Linked DNA regions of Homo sapiens: region 2 is linked to region 1. A link means that fine-mapping ties the variant in region 1 to the expression of a gene that starts in the linked region. Tissue or cell type: whole blood. Region 1 holds a variant in brackets; the other region holds the start of a gene. Each region is shown on its reference strand, or each on the opposite one.

Evidence for each region. PIP is the estimated chance that this variant, and not a neighbour inherited with it, causes the effect. A credible set is the group of variants that fine-mapping cannot tell apart.
Region 2: it holds the start of SMPD1, and the variant in region 1 is the best candidate, but not a certain one, in a credible set for the expression of SMPD1 in whole blood (TOPMed, PIP 0.69).

Annotation. Positions count from the first base shown.
Region 1 is chr2:122,804,111-122,812,446 of GRCh38, reverse strand. It overlaps LOC105373594 (a long non-coding RNA gene), which reads left to right and starts at 3,554. Exons shown (of 4, transcript XR_923289.3): 1 at 3,554-4,128; 2 at 6,861-7,750. The variant T/C (reference allele first, on the strand shown) is at 3,282.
Region 2 is chr11:6,387,009-6,395,344 of GRCh38, reverse strand. It overlaps SMPD1 (sphingomyelin phosphodiesterase 1), which reads right to left and starts at 4,871. Exons shown (of 6, transcript NM_000543.5): 1 at 4,429-4,871; 2 at 3,189-3,961; 3 at 1,958-2,129; 4 at 1,652-1,728; 5 at 1,304-1,449; 6 at 349-1,147. The coding sequence starts at 4,746. The coding sequence ends at 738. It overlaps APBB1 (amyloid beta precursor protein binding family B member 1), which reads left to right. Exons shown (of 15, transcript NM_001164.5): 15 at 1-220. LOC124902624 (a long non-coding RNA gene) reads left to right here and starts at 4,989. Exons shown (of 2, transcript XR_007062573.1): 1 at 4,989-5,238. RefSeq lists a silencer at 4,655-5,154.

The DNA.
Region 1 (8,336 bases):
GAATGTTTTTTCTACAGCTATTGAGATGGTCACGTGATTTTTGTATTTAATTCTGTTTGTGTGGTGCATCACATTTATTGACTTGCATATGTTAAACCATCCCTGCATCCCTGGTATAAAACCCACTTGATCATGGTGAATTATCTTTTTGATATGTTGTTGGATTCAGTTAGCTAGCATAATGTTAAGGATTTTAGCATGTAGGTTCATCAAGAATATTGGTCTGTAGTTTTCTTTTTTGATTACGTCCTTTCCTGGTTTTGGTATTAGGGTGATGCTAGCTTCATAGAAAGAATTAGGGAGGGTTCCTTCTTTTTGTATTTTGTAAAGTAGTGTCAAAGGATTGGTACCAATTCTTCTTTGAATATCTGGTAGAATTCTGCTGGGAATCCGTCTGGTCCTGGACTTTTTTTGTTGTTGTTGTTTGTATTTTTTAAATTACTATTTCAATCTCGCTGCTTGTTATTGGTCTGTTAAGGGTATCTAATTCTTCCCGATTTAAGCTAGGAAGGTTGTATTTTTCCAGAAATTTATCCATCTCTTCTAGGTTTTCTAGTTTATATGCATAAAGGTGTTCATAGTAGCCTTGAATGATATCCTGTATTTCAGTGACGTCAGTTGTAATGTCTCCTGTTTGGTTTCTTATTGAGGTTATTTGGACTTTCTGCCTTCGTTTATTGGTTAATCTTGCTAATGGTCTATCAGTTTTATTTATCTTTTCAAAGAACCAGCATTTTGTTTCATTTACCTTCTATATTTGTGTGTGTGTGTCCATTTCATTTAGTTCTGCTCTGATCCTGGTTATTTCCTTTCTTCTGCTGGGTTTGGGTTTGATTTGTTATTATTTCTCTAATTCCTTGTGGTGTGACCTTAGATTGTGTGTTTGTTCTCTTTCAGACTTTTTTTTTTTTTTTTAATCTTGTTGCCCAGGCTGGAGTACAATGGCGCAATCTCAGCTCACCTCAACTTCCGCCTCCTGGGTTCAAGAGATTCTCCTGCTTCAGCCTCCCGAGTAGCTGGGATTACAGGCATGTGCCACCAGGCCTGGCTAATTTTTTGTATATTTAGTAGAGACGGAGTTTCTCAATATTGGTCAGGCTCGTCTTGAACTCCTGACCTCAGGTGATCCACCCACCTCGGCCTCCCAAAGTGCTGCAATCACAGGCATGAGCCACCGAACCTGGCCCTCTTATAGACCTTTTGATGTAGGCATTTACGGTTATAAACTTTCCTCTTAGCACTGCCTTTTCTGTATCCCAGAGGTTTTGATAGGTTGTGTCATTATTGCCATTCACGTTGAAGAATTTTTAAATTTCCATCTTGATTTTGTTTTTGACTCAGTGCTCATTCAGGAGCAGGTTATTTAATTTCCATGTATTTGTATGGTTTTGAAGATTCCTTTTAGAGTTGATTCCCGGTTTTATTCCACTGTAGTCTGAAAGGGTGCTTGATATAATTTCAATTTTCTTACATTTATTGAGGCTTGTTTTATGGCCTATCATATGGTGAATCTTGGAGAAAGTTCCATGTGCTATTGAATAGAATGTGTATTCTGCAGTTGTTGGATGAAATGTTCTGTACATATCTGTTAAGTCCATTTGTTCCATGGCATAGTGTAAATCCATTGTTTCTTTTTTGGCCTTCTGTCTTGATGAATTGTCTAGTGTTGTCAGTGGAGTATTGAAATCCTCCACTATTGGTGTCTATGTTGCTGTCTATCTCATTTCTTAGGTCTATTAGTAATTGTTTTATAAATTTGAAAGCTCCAGTGTTAGGTGCATATATGTTTAGGATTGTGATATTTTCCTTTTGGACAAGGCCTTTAATGTCCTTCTTTGTCTCTTTTAACTGCTGTTGCTTTAAAGTTTGATTTGTCTGATATAAGAATAGCTACCCCTGCTAGCTTTTGGTGTCCATTTGCATGAAATGCCTCTTTCCACCCCTGTACTTAGGTTTATGTGAATCCTTACGTGTTAGGTGAGTCTCCTGAGGGCAGCAGATGATTGGTTGGTAAGTTCTTTTCCATTCTGCGGTTATATATCTAAGTGGAGCATTTATGCCATATACATTCAATGTTAGTATTGAAATGCGAGGTACTATTGCATTCATCATACTCTTTGTTTCCTGTGTATTTTGGTTTTTTTTTTTTTGCTTTTTAGCTAGTATTTTTGTAATAGATCCTGTGTGATTTATTCCTTAAAAATATTCTGTTTTGAGTGTTTCCAGGATTTGTTTCAAGATTTAGGGTTCCTTTTAGCAGTTATTGTAGTGGTGGCTTGGTAATGGTGAATTCTCTCAGCATTTGTTAGTCTGAAAAAGACTGTATCTTTCCTTCATATGTGATGTATAGTTTCATTGGATACAAAATTCTTGGCTGAATAGTGTTTTGTTTGAGGAGGCTGAAGATAGGGCCCCAATCCCTTCTAGCTTGCAGGGTTTCTGTTGAAAAATCTGCTGCTAATCTGATAGGTTTTCCTTTATAGGTTACCTGGTGCTCCTGCCTCACAGCTCTTAAGATTCTTTCCTTAGTCTTACCTTCTTCCTCAGGAACACCAATTATTCTTAGTTTTGGTCATTTAACATAATCCCAGACTTCTTGGAGGCTTTTTTCATATTTTCTTATTATTTTTTCTTTGTCTTTCTTGGATTGGGTTAATTTGAAGACCTTCTTTTTGAGCTATGAATTTCTTTCTTCTACTTGTTCAATTATATTGCTGAGATTTTCCAGAGCATTTTGCATTTCTGAAAGTGTGTTCAGAGTGTCCTGAATTTTTTATTGTTTTTGCTTTAAGCTATCTATTTCCTTGAATATTTTTCCCTTCACTTTTATATCATTTTTTGGATTCTCTTGCATTGAGCTTTGCGCTTCTCTGGTGCCTCCCTGATTAGCTTAATAACTAACCTCCTAAATTCTTTTTCAGGTTAATCAGGGATTTCTTCTTGGTTTGTCTCCATTGCTGGTGAATTAGGGTGATTTTGGGGGCTGTTAAAGAGGTATGTTTTCTCATATTACCAGGGTTGGTTTTCTGGTTCCTTCTCACTTGGGTAGGCTCTATCAGAGGGAAGTTCTAGGGCTGAAGGCTGTTGTTCAGATTCTTTTGTCCCATGGGTGTGTTTACTTGTTGTAGTACTCTCCCCTTTTTCCTATAGATGTGGCTTCCTGTGAGCTAAATTGCAGTGTTTGTTGTCTCTTTTCTGGGTCTAGCCACCTAGTGACTCTACTCAGCTCCGGGCTGGCACTGGGGGTTGTCTGCACGGAGTACTGTGATGTGAACCGTCTA[T/C]TGGTCTCTCAGCCATGGATACCAGTTCCTGTTCCAGTGGAGGTGGTGGGGAGTGCAATGGACTCCGTGAGGGTTCTTAGCTTTAATGCTCTAGTTTTGTGATGGTTGGCCTCCTGCCAGGAGGAATCAGCTCCAGGGAGTATCAGCTGTAGTAGTATGTATAGGGACCAGTGGTGGGGGTTGGGGGTCCTAGAACTCCCAAGGTTATATGCCCTTTGTCTTCGGTTACCACGGTGGATAGGGAGGGGCCATTAGTTGGGGGTGGGGCTAGGTGTGTCTGAGCTCTGACTCTCCTTGTGTGGGTCTTTCTGTGGCTGTTGTGGGGGATAGGGGTGAGATGCCCAGGTTAATGGAGTTGTGTACATAGGAGGATTATGCTGCCTCTGCTGAGTCATGCAGGTTGTCAGGGAAGTGGGGGAAAGCCGGCAGTCATAGGCCTCACCCAGCTCCCATGCAAACCAAAGAGCAGTTCTCATGGAGCCTGTTTCCAGGTGGTGGGCAAGATGGGCTTGAAAACTTGCCTCAGGCTACCTGCCTCTCAACTATGGAAAAAAAGGGCTTGGTTCTTCCCCTGCCTGTGGAGTCTGCACAACAGATTTGTGCCCTCCCATGAGTTCTGGCCAGGAGGCTTCTCGCCCTGTTCAAATTGTTACAAAGTTCAACTATAGATTTCTTTCTTCCTGTGGAGTTTCAACACCTGCTCCTCTGGCCACCCTCACAATGGATCCCTGTGGTGCCAAGCAGGAATGGCCTGTTTGGGCACCCAGTGAGCTCCCAGGGCCTTTCTACTGCTTCCTCAAACCCTGTATTTTGCTCAGCTCTCTAAATGGATTCAACTCCAGAGAAGGTAGGAAACTTCTCCCACAAAGAGACCTTCAGTTTCTCCAGTGGGGCTGTGTGTTCCAGAGAGGGGGGTCTCCCTTTACCACTTCCAGCGTCGGGGCACTGACAGTATTTGTGGTGTCTCTTGGGTACTGCAGAAACAGTTCGCTTCCTTCAGAGAGTCTGTGGGTACTCTCGGGATTGCTGGCTTGTTCTTGCAGTCAACCTGGAGCTAAAATTCACAATGCGAGCCTCTGCACACTGATCTATACAGAGCTGCAATCTAGTCCTACTTCCCATCCACCATGATTAACAGAACATTTTTGTCAATGACTGGCTGGACATCTTCATTGTTTGGAAACGTTCTTCTCATTTCTTTCTCCTCCACCTTCAATGGCTTCCAACATCACTCAGAGTAAAAGCCCAGGACTCTCCTATTTTATTATACTCTTTTGAAACATGAATTATAATGACCACATAGTATTCAATTGAGGATAATATCACAATTTAATTTATTAATCCTTTGAGGTTGGGCATTATATTGTTTCCAAATCTCAGTGTTAAAAATATTTCCAGAATGAGTATCTTTCTGTAAAAAGGTTCTACAAATCCTGTATGATTTCCAAAGTTAGATTCTTAAATAAGGAATTACTGGTCAAAAAATATAAGCTCTTAAATTTGTCTTAAATGCGTATTGTTAAACTTATTTACAATAAATGTTCACTATTTACTATTACTGTTAGCAAAGTATAATTCTCCCGTTCTTCCTGTCATTGTTTTTCCATAGTTCTCATTTTACTTAACCTGTGCTCATTTCAAACAATAAATTCATGTCCCGCTACCAATTTTAATTTGGGAGGCAGAATAGCCTGATGGTTAAGAGCCCTAATCTGGGAGCCAATTAGTACATTATAGTGCTGTCTCTTAGTTTAGTTTGACATTTATTTATTTTAACATGAGACCCTTCTAGAAAAGTGTTATTGGAAAGTTACAAGTCATATCTTCTCAGAAATCATCACTCCCTTTTCCGTGCTCCCACAACGGAATGTCTATGTTTCTAGGGATCATTTATAACACACAGCCTACTAGATAGGATTAAAATCATGCTTATTTACATATAGCAGGTTGCTTCCATAATGAATGCCTAGACCAGTGTAAGAATTGAACATACTAATATATTTAAGAAAATGAGAATATTCAGACAGTCATGGTCAGGATTAAAGATAACTATAGTGGTATTCTTAAAAACAAAGAATTTGTTGATCACCTATTAGCTACCAAATACTTTACAGAAAAGTTATTCAGTCACAATAAGTCTTATAAGTTAAGAACTGCCAGCTCAATCTACGGGTGTAGTGGATTGAATAGTCCCAAAATACATGTTCACTCAGAACCTGAGAACCTGACCTTATTTGGAAATAGGGTCTTTGCAAATTTAATTAGTTAAATATCTTGAAATGAAATCACTCTAGATTTAGGGTGGCCCCTAAATTTAATAAATGGAGTCCTTATAAGAATAGGAGTGGACACACAGACACAGGAAAGAGGGACACGTGAAAATGGAGGCATAGACTGGAGTGAGGCTGTCACAGCTGAGGACTCTCAGGAGCCACCCAAAGCCAAGAGGAGCAAGGAAGGATTCTCCCCTAGAGCCTTCGGAGAGAGTGTGACTCTGATGACACTTTGATTTTGGACTTCTGGCCTCAAAAACCATTAAGACGACACATTCCTCTGATTTTAAGCCACCAAGTTTGTGGCAACTTTTATGGCAAGTCCAGAAAATGGATACAACCAGTAAGAAAACTGATGCTCTGAGGACTTCAATTCACTTTTCTGAGCTTCAATTTTTATGCTGGTGTGTGGTAGTTTGTTTTTCTGGATTTCTAGCACAAATACATTTTGTGCAAACCTGCCCAGGCTATGAGAGATGGACAGCCATAGTTTTTCAGCACATGCAGAGAATGGGGTCACCATAAACTACCTGATGACTAAATGTAGTCTAAATTTAGTCTAAATTAGTTTGATTTAGAGATGTTTCCTTAATTTTAGTGACAGTTCATGTTGCATCTTCCCAGGCCGAGGTTGGAAAATATGCTCCTTTTACAGGGACACTGCTATGACAAACAATACAATTAGTTGGCCTTGAAACTTTCCTTTTTATGGCCTAATAAAAGTAACACTGCATTCACCAGACAACCAGTCATCTATCCCCCTCGTGGATCCCACTGTATAAGAGAAGCACATGCTCTGGTTACATTAACACCTCTGACCTCTCCCCATCAGATATGTCCAATAAGCAAGAACTGTTTTCCACAGCCCCTCTCACAAAATAATGGTGCATTCCTTTTACTAACTTTGAGAAAGATATTGCTAAACATGTATAGGGTTAATAATGTATTAATAATGTAAAGAAATTTGAAATTTCTTTAGAATGGTGTCTTTCATTTCAAGTAATGGAATGACCCCCGCCCCCCCCGGCTATTTTTCCCCATAGAGTGTGGCTATAGCATGGAGACTGGGAAGAAATTTAAGGTGTGACCCATCCCTTTGCCATCATGAAGGAAAGATTTGGTTTTGTACAATTTGAGTTTTCAAATGTCACTTTCTACAGAATTATTATGAAATATTTGACTTATGGTCCATTTATTGTACTTCGCTCTGAACATTAATCCTATAGTTTCAGTTTTCCAGAATTGTCCAGAAGTTACTAATTTATCTTATTCTATTTCTTCACCTCCCTCTCTTTCCTTTCATTAGACTATCAAGTAGTTAGGAAAGAAAGTCAGTGAGATGTCTCAGGCGTGACTCAGCTACGGAAACAATAGCAATCAGAGGACATTTGGAGATGAAGAAAAAAAAGAAACAAACTTCAATACAATGAGAAATATACCAGTACATGTATGACACTCAAGTAACATAATGATCTTAAGGCTAATTTACTACCTCCTTGTTGCCTGACAGGTCAGAACAATTTGTTTAGAACATGAAATCTGCTAGTAACTATGAGATGTTGGATGTGTCATTAGCCTCTCAAAAGTCTCCATTTCCAGGCCCAAAAAATTACGATGGGTAAATACTTGATGAAGTTGTTGTGTGTTTTAATTGCAACTGAGGATTAATTACCAGCAAGCATCAGTCACTACATATTTTTTATTGATCATATTCTGTGAGCTAGGCACTGTGCTATTTTCTGTGCTAGAATCACTTACTATGAGACAGCCTGAGTAGAATTTCCTCTACTGGACTTATCTTCAACAAAGACAATAAAAATTGTCATTATTTTCAACAAAAATCTGGAACTTAACCTGGAAACCTCACTTTTCTGTGCCAGGAGGTTTCATGGGCTTTTCCCATAGGCCATTCGGGTTTATCTATGTGGACCTCAGTTTTCATATTCTTCACAACTTATACTCAAGTTAGGGCCCTGGTACCTACACTTTATGTAGCTATAGAAGAGAGCAATGATATTGGTCTTATCTTACTATGGAAGAATTGCTATAACCTCATATTCATCTGCAAATGTGGACATTTGGAACAGTAAAGAAGCGATGAACTAAATTCTAAGCCAGGCAAAGGGAGTGTTACTACCCTGACCAAAAGAATTTTTTTAACATGGAGTCCCCAAGACAACGATGGTGACTGACTCAGTGCGTATTTTTCAGCTTCATCATAACCTCATTGCAAAAGTCAACACTGCTGAAATGTGCTTTCTTTTTAAAGCACCTTCTTCTCCTGTCTTTATTCATAAACACACGTATATCTGTTTCCTCTGACCTCACCAGCTGTTTTAACCCAGAGTCTTCTTTGCAGAATGTCTGTACAGTATTCCTCAGAATTCAGTCTTGCTTTACTTGTCTCTCTTCTCCCAACACAACCTCCCGAGGTGATCGAAAACATTCCAGTAAATATAATTTACAAATGTAAGTCTCTCATCATTGTATCACCGTGAAACATTAGTGAATATACATAGTGCTTCTATGAGATGTTTCCTCTTGGATATCTCAGAGGTATTTCAAAATTTACATGATGATTTTGTACAAAATAATTTTTAAGAATTATGAAAATTTTCAAACATACAAAAAACTAGAGTGATGAGCTCATGATTTAGCTTCTATAATTATCTAGAAAAATGAAATCTCTTCCAGGTATACACCTCCATCTCTGCTTTCACCACCACAGCAGAAAGCCTAATAAGTAGGACTATTTCTTAAAAAAAGAAAGCATTAAATATTC
Region 2 (8,336 bases), not on the chromosome of region 1:
TGGAGTGGTAACAAGAGGAGCAGGAAGCAAGGCCAGCCCTGGTTCTCCATCCCCATGTGTTTCAGGTGGAACAGGAGGAACTGGTCCAGGCCAGGCCTCATCCTCCTGGACCCAGCAGGGGCAGAAGGAGGAAGGGACTGGTCCAGGCATGGGTCCCTTCCCCCTGCTCCATGGGCACCTCTGCTGTATTGATATCACTAATAAAGTCTGTCTGCACTGCTGTGTGCCTTCTTATGCCTGTACCACACCATCAACCCATTAGCCTGTGCCTCAGTTATGATCTTGCTCCAAAGATCTCCTTGCCCTGCTTGCCTGGAAAGAAGAAATTGGGACAGTCACACAGGGGTCTGGAGTCCAAGTCTCTTATCTTTATTTTAACAGACTGGCAGCATCAGGTCGCAGCAGCAGTACAGGGTTCCTGGCTGGGCAGCACAGGCCTGGGGCGACAGCTCCTGTCTTGTCTGCCCAGGGCAGTGTCAACTTAGGCCTCTACTCCATGGCTGTGAAAGGACAGCAGCCTCAAGGCAGTCTAGCTCCTGGGCACAGGCAGCCAAACCCCCTCCCATATCCAGCTAAACCAGCTCCAGGAAAGGAGAAGGTCCTGTTTCCCCGGCATCCTTGGGGCCCAGGGACTGGTTCTTTCACCGGATGATCTTGCCTGGTTGAACCACAGCAGCATTTGGGCTTTTTCACCCTTTCCTACATCAAGAACTTTCCCAAATGTGGGCCCTGGGGCCCTAGCAAAACAGTGGCCTTGGCCACAGGCTCTGGGCCTCTGGGAGGCTCCCATCTGGCATCAGGTGGCGGCACAGAGCAGGGCTGTCAGCACGGGCAGAGAGCTGGGCACAAAGAGTAGCCAGACGGCAGGGCGTGCCACAGGGCTCCGAGGGTGGGTGGCCCTTATGGTAGAGAAACCAGAAGGTCTGGAAAAGTTGCATGTCGCCCCGCATGCGATATACCAGGTTGTGCCAGGCGGTAGGCAGTGTGTTGGGCAGCCCATAGGTTTCTCGAGCCCTGTAGAGAAGCTGCCAGTGCGGTATGGCTCCCGGTATGTTTGCCTGGGTCAGATTCAGGATGTAGGTCTCATGGTCCAGGACCACGTGAGAGCTCCCGGAGTAGTTTCCATCTATTTGGTACACACGGTAACCTGCAAGGATGTGGGGCTGACTGGAGGGGCAAGGAGCAAGGGTAACTCCAGGGAGGGGCCACACATCCTGCCCATGCTTTGCAGGCTCTGGCTCCAACCTCCTTCCCCTATCCCACCAACTCCAGGATAAGGGAGGCTCCCTTCTGCCTCACTCACCAGGATTAAGGCCGATGTAGGTAGTTGCACTGGGTGCCAGGAAGGCTACAGCCAGCGGCCGGCTCAGAGTCTCTTCATCATAGAAGACCTCAAATTCATCCACATGAGTGTGGCCAAAGAACTGAGCAGCCAGGGTGTTCTCATACCTGGCCAGAAGGTACTACATTCAGAAGATTCTAGGGAGGGGTAGGAAGACATCTGGGGAGATAGGATGCCCTCTTTCTCCAACCTGTTCTAGTGAGGAGCCTCCCCACTCCATGGGACAACAGGGATGGTGAGATGCTCAAGGGAATTTTCAGCCTTCAGACACTCACCCTGTCCCTATTCCCACCCTCATCTCCGTCCTACCTGGCTACAATTCGGTAATAATTCCAGCTCCAGCTCTTCAGACAGTGCCCTGGGGGAATGTGGCCAATTATATGCACCTAGTAGGGAGAATTAAGGATGGTAATCAGGGCATCCAGGGGTCCAGGCAGCCCTGGCTAGAGAAAGGGGGACTGAATGAAGGCTTTCAACAGTGACCATGAGCTGAATCCCCAGGGAACACTTGTTGGGAATGCCAGGAAAATAAAACTTCTGTGCCCAGAGGTGCTCCAGCTCAACAGGAGCCTGCTTGTCCCCCAGCACCACCGTGTTCCCACTACTGGCCCTCACTTTGTCTCCTCGATCCTCAGCAGCCTGAAGCTCCCCCACCAGCCACTGGAGCTGTCCTGCGGGATCCGTGGAGTTGATCAAGAGCCAGAAGTTCTCACGGGAACAAAAATTCATATTGAGAGAGATGAGGCGGAGACCGGGGTATGGGGAAAGAGCATAGAACCCCCCAATTCTGAAACAAAGTAAACATGAGAGGTCAACACTTGTTCCAATCCTGGTCCTCCTGTGCTGGGCATTTGGGTGGAGGGTAAAAGCATACATGACATCTTCCCCACCTGCAAGGAGCTCACAGTCTAGCCAGAGACCAAACAGTTCTAATTATTGGGTCTGTGTGACACAAAAGACTCTGAGGGCAGAGGGCTCCAGGAGTATGGGGGAGGGATAAGAGTTAGCTAGAATGGGAAGCAAGGACCACACAGAGGGAAGATGACATGGGATGGATAAGGTGGGAAAAACTGGAGCACTTAAAAAAAAGGGGGAAATCATTTCCAGAGGGCCAACATGAGCAAAGACACAGCTGGGGCATAGAGAGGTTATGCTGCCAGACCTTTGAAGGAGGGTGGCTGGAGATAAGAGTAGAAAGGGAGGGCTGGAAAGCTGGGTGCAGTGGTTCATGCCTGTAATCCCAGCACTTTGGGAGGCCGAGGTGGGCAGATCATGAGGTCAGGAGATCAAGACCATCTTGGCCAACATGGTGAAACCCCATCTCTACTAAAAATACAAAAATTAGCTGGGTGTGGTGGCGTGCACCTGTAGTCCCAGGTACTTGGGAGGCTGAGGCAGAATTGCTTGAACCCAGGAGGTGGAGGCTGTAGTGAGCTGAGATGGTGCCACTGCACTCCAGCCTGGGCAACAGAGCAAGATTCCATCTCAAAAAAAAAAAAAAAAAAAAAAAAAAAAAGGGAGGGCCAGGAGCAGTAGCTGATGCCTGTGGTCCCAGCATTTTGGGAGGCCGAGGCGGGAGGATTGCTTGAGGTTAGGTGTTTGAGACCAGCCTGGGCAACATAGCAAGATCTTGTCTCTACAAAAACTAAACTAAAAAAAAAAAAAAAAAAAAAGCCTGGTGCGGCAAAACAGTAGAAAGGGAAGGAGGAGTCAGATTAGGGGAGCCAAATGAAGAGCACTAAGGACTCATGCTAGAGCAATCAGAGACAATGCCCCAGGTTCCCTTCTCCCTTCACTTTCATTCACCTTTCTTTTCCCTTCCTGGGTTTCCACGGACGATAAGTACCTGAGGGTGCGCAGGGCTTCGGCAGGCAGCCAGGGCTCCCAAGCCTTGGCCATCGCTTCATAGAGCCAGCGGGAGGAGTGGTTGCCCTCAATGAAGGGGGGAGGGAAGCTATTGACAGGTGTGCTTTCATGGTTACCCACAGCAGGGTACACTGGCACTGGCCCCAGGAACTTCCTCACAAGTGCTGTGACGGTGGTCAGGGCCCGCAGTTGGTCCTGACGAGTCTGGTGCCAGACATCATGTGCGGGGATGTCTCCTGTCCAGTACACCATATCAAAAGGGCCGGCTGGGCCCAGCCCACTCAACAGGCTCTCCAGGGTCCTCAGGGGCAGGTCACACTTGCTGTATTCGCCCCAGTATCCGGCACCTGGCCGGGATGCGGGCGGCAGGCCAGAACCCCGGCGGCAGCACAGTGGGTCTGCACAGTCAGGGTCCGTGCCCTCCAGGTAGTCATGATCCCAGTGCAGGTCAGTGAGGAAGAGGATGCGGCTGACAGGGGCACCTGGGGCTGGGGGGCTAGGGGGTTTGGGGGGCGGCTTCGGCACAGTAGGCAAAGAGATGTTCCAAGATGAGAAAATGTCCCAGTGCCCACAGGTGGAGCCCAGGAGCAGGCCACAGGCCTCAGATGGGCTCAGCACTGAGCGTCTCCACACCTCCACCATGTCATCCTCAAAGAGGTGGACAATGGATTGGCACACGGCAGGTGGTGCTATCTTCAGCAGATTGCACAGCTTGATGGCCACGGAGCCCACGCGAGCCACATTGGGTTCCTTCTGCAGTGGGAGGAGCGCATGGTGAGAAATCAGAGGCAGAGCAGAGGAACCAGGCCAACCCCTGGCCACCACCCCTTGGGCCTCCATTTCCAAACTGGGGCTGGGCAGGACTCAGTGCACCAAGCTCAGTGCACACCTTTGCCTTCCAGATATTGCCCTGTAACTCAGGCAGCACCAGGCCATCGCTTCTTCTTTAGCTCAGCGGCCTGTGGCATGAGGCCTTTGCTTGGCAAGCTGACTTCCTCAGGCACTGTCTGCATTATTTTCTTACTTCACAAAGGTCACAATGGGGTGATGGTGGCATGTAGCCATGGGTGTCCCCAAAGGGGAGCAAACTCAGTGATGGATTGTAGATGCCACCCTCTCCATCAGGGATGCATTCTGAGCCCAGCGCACCAGCATCAGCCCCAGCCCCCAGCCCCAGCACTCCTTTCGGCCTCCTCCACTGCAGCCCCTTCAGTGCTCACCTTCAGCCCGAGGTTGATGGCGGTGAATAGACCTTTGCAGATTGGGCAGGTGAGGTTCCCCCACCCAAAGACATCTCGGAGCCGGGGCACTATGCGATGTAACCTGGCAGGATGGCCTTGGGGAGAAAGAGGGTGAGCCTCTGCCGGAGCCCAGAGAACCCGAGAGTCAGACAGAGCCAGCGCCAGCGCCAGCGCCAGCGCCAGCGCCAGCACCAGGCCCATCCAAAGGAGTCCGGGGGCTCCGGCGGTCCCGTCTTGTCCCTGCTCCCGGCCGGACCTGGGGCAGCTCTGGCGGAGTGACGCTCCGTAGCGGGGCATTGTCGCGCTTCCTACACGGGGCTGGTTCGTCTGTCCCGTCCCCCCCGGCCTGGACCCTAGCCAGCCCTCAGGGCCCCGGGCGGCGCCGGGGACACCCGATTACCCTTCTCTGTAGTCGGCTGACTGCTCCGCGGCCGGCCGCAAAGCAGCTCCGCCCCTTCCTCTTCCTCTGATCTCTGACAGCTGATCTCTCGGTGGCGGGCGGCTGTCAACGCTGCGGAGGCGGAGGGGGCGGGGCGCTCCCGGGACCGCCCCGATTCCGCCCCCTCTCCCTGCCCCCGCCCTGCCCCGGGCGCACGGGCTGCGGGGGTGGGGACTCTCCCTGAGGTCACCAGGGGCTCCGCCTTGAGGTCACAGCCGCGGGAGGCCGTGCTCGTGCTTTGGAGCTCCATGTGATGTGGTCGGTGGAAGACGTCTCCTTTGTCAGAATCCGCGCTCAGATTCCCGGAATAGCTGCCAGACCGACCCCAGCGTTTAGCCCGGGAAGGGGAGGTAGGAGAGAGCAGGGCGGGCAGGATCCTCCCACTGGGTGTGTTGCCTCTGACAGGAAGGCGCCTTCCCTCGATTCCCCATGCTCTGCCACTGGCACCAGCCCTCTTGAGTCACCCTGAGAATCACTCACCTGTGATTCAGATGAGGAAACAAACCTTAGAGATGGTGAAGAGACTAGGAAGCCGTAAAGACCATATAGCCGTGGGGGCCAATAACATGGGCGGGAACCCAATTGGGTCTCCCACCTCCGTGTATCCACGACAGTAAAAGCGAGCATTTATGGAGTTGTTTATGATGTGCCAAGCACCAACCCAGGCACTTTATAATTAATAATCTTCAATTCTCACAACAACCCTAAGAAGTACCTATTATATTGGGGCTCAGAAATCCATACCCAAAATATGGTGGTTTGACTTACTAAGTTAAGCCTTAAGGTGTGTCTGGCCTTCCTACTCCCGCGCCCTCTCTCCCAAAGCCGTTACCTAGCGTCCAGACCCATCAAAAGGAACAACGGTTTTTTTCTTCCCCTCCCTACAAAACCAAGAATATAATCACACCTGAACAGACCCCTTCACATGATAATGTGCTAGTTAATCTGTTCCCTGATCCATTCCTTCTCCCTCAGCAGAATTCCTCTTCCCCTCACTCCCACAACCCCCTTTGCCTGAATGACACCTAAGCTTCTGAACTCGTCTGGGAAGTGGGTAGTCACTCTGTGGTTCCCCGTGGACACATTAATACAATTTCTATGCCTTTTCTTCAATTAATCTGTTTTTTGTGGGTTGATTTTTCAGCAGAATTTCAGAGGGCGAAGGGAAAGTTTCCCTTGGTCCCTGCAAATACTATTATTACCCTCCTTTACAGATAGGATGAGGCACAAAGAAGTTAAGTGGCAGAATAGCAATTAAACCCTAAGCTGTTTGACGAGTGCTTCTGAGGAATCCTCAGAGCTATCAAGTCCTGTCAGTTCTTTCCTTTGATAATTTTTTACAAGTGTTTTTTCCCCCCAGTTCTGGGGACATCATCTCAGATAGAGTACTCACAGTAATAATTAGCATGCATTTTTAAGATTATGTACTATGAAAAACAAAACAAAACAAAACCTTTTTATCTAAGGAAGATGAGCCCCTTTAAATTATCAGGCCCAGACAGGCATTTAAAATGTAGCAACAGTCACTCTCACTCTTCTTTGAGCTAAGTAATTATCTCTTGAAACCACTTGCTATGCCAAGTAGCCATTAAATGCCATACACCTTATAGTTCAACAATGTATAGCCAAGCGCTAAACAATGTATAACCAGTGTTATTTCTGTAAACAATGAGAATTCCTGATGAACAACTTTTGTATTCATTTCCTCTCCTAATTCATCTTTTTTTCTTTGAAAATATGAGCCTCTCTTTTGTTGTCCAGAGTGCTCCCCCAAGACAACTTGCAAGTGTGTCCTGGGTCGCAGTCCTCAACCTTGGCCCTTGGCCCGAATAACCCTCTGTAGGTACTTTTCTGAGGACTCTGCCTTACGTTAATCCTCACAACAAATTTGGAAGTCGGTATTATAATTATCCCCATTTTACGGAGAAGGAAAGTAGGATTAAGTAAGTGGCTCAAGATCCCACAGCTAGCTAGTAAGTGCTGGAACTGGAATTTGGATGTGTCAAGCAAAACATGTCTGAGACAGGTCTCAATCAATTTAGAGGTTTATTTTGCCAAGGTTAAGGACATGGCTGGAAGAAATAAACACGGAATCGCAGAAACAGTCTGTGGTCTGTGGCTTTCTCCAAAGATGATTTTGAGGGCTTCAATATTTAAAGGGGAAAAGTGAGCTGGAGGGAAAGAAGAAGGGTATGGTAATCCACATGTCGCAAGAGAAAAGGAGCAGGTAGGGAGATACTCAATTATGTGTTCGTCTGGCACTTTACATAAGATAAAGTAAATATGCCTGTGGAGATATTTAACCTTTTGTGTTTTTTTTGTTTTTTTTTTTTTGAGACAGAGTTTTCGCTGTTGTTGACCAGGCTGGAGTGCAATGGCGCAATCTCGGCTCACCACAACCTCTGCCTCCCGGGTTCAAGTGATTCTCCTGCCTCAGCCTACTGAGTAGCTGGGATTACAGGCATGTGCCACCACACCCGGCTAATTTTGTAAATATTTAACCTTTTGTCTGTAGCTATCTGCTTAGGAACAAAAGGAAAGGCAGCTTCTTGCATGACTCAGTTTTCAGTTTATTTTTTTTCCTTTTGGCATAGTCAACTGGAGTCCTGAGTTTTTATTTTCCTTTCACAAATGCAACATTCTGGCTCTATTCTTTGCTGTGTGGGGACCCATTCAGAACACCAGAGTTGGTATAACAATTATTTTAAGCCGAAGACATTTCAGATTCAATAGATGCAGAAATAAACCTTCTGGGAGCTTTCTTCATCTGATTAAAACTTCTGGGAAATGTCAACCTAAAGGGAAAAATCTAAGGCAAACTTGATATAAGTAGAGAGTTTATTTGGGCCAAGTTTGAAGACTGTGAAGCGAAGATTCAAGTTGCCCTGAGTATATGCTCCCAATTAGCAGAAGTCACAAGTGGGTTTTTAAAGGAGAAGAAGAGGCAGTTCCTAATGAGGACTAAGCTCTGATTTTTTCTTATCTTGCTCAAATTCCTATCGAAAGGGTCTGGGGAGTCATGCCCTACAAACCATAAATTCTTATCAGTTGGGTTTTATTTAACACTATATATTGTGACTGCCTTTTCAGTCATACTCTGGCATAAAATTACGTGATAAAGAAGAAAGTCAAAATATTTTACCCCAAAACATGTTTCTTTGCCATATATATATATATATATATATATATATATATATATATATATATGTTTTTTGGTTTGGGGTGGGGGGCGGGACAGAGTTTCACTCTTATTGCCCGGGCTGGAGTGCAATGGGGTGATCTTGGCTTACTGCAACCTCCCCCACCCAGATTCAAGGGATTCTCCTGCCTCAGCCTCCCGAGTAGCTGGGATTACAGGCACCCACCACCACCATGCCCAGCTAATTTTTGTATTGTTAATAAAGATGGGGTTTTGCCATGCTGGCCAGGCTGGTCTCGAACTTCTGAC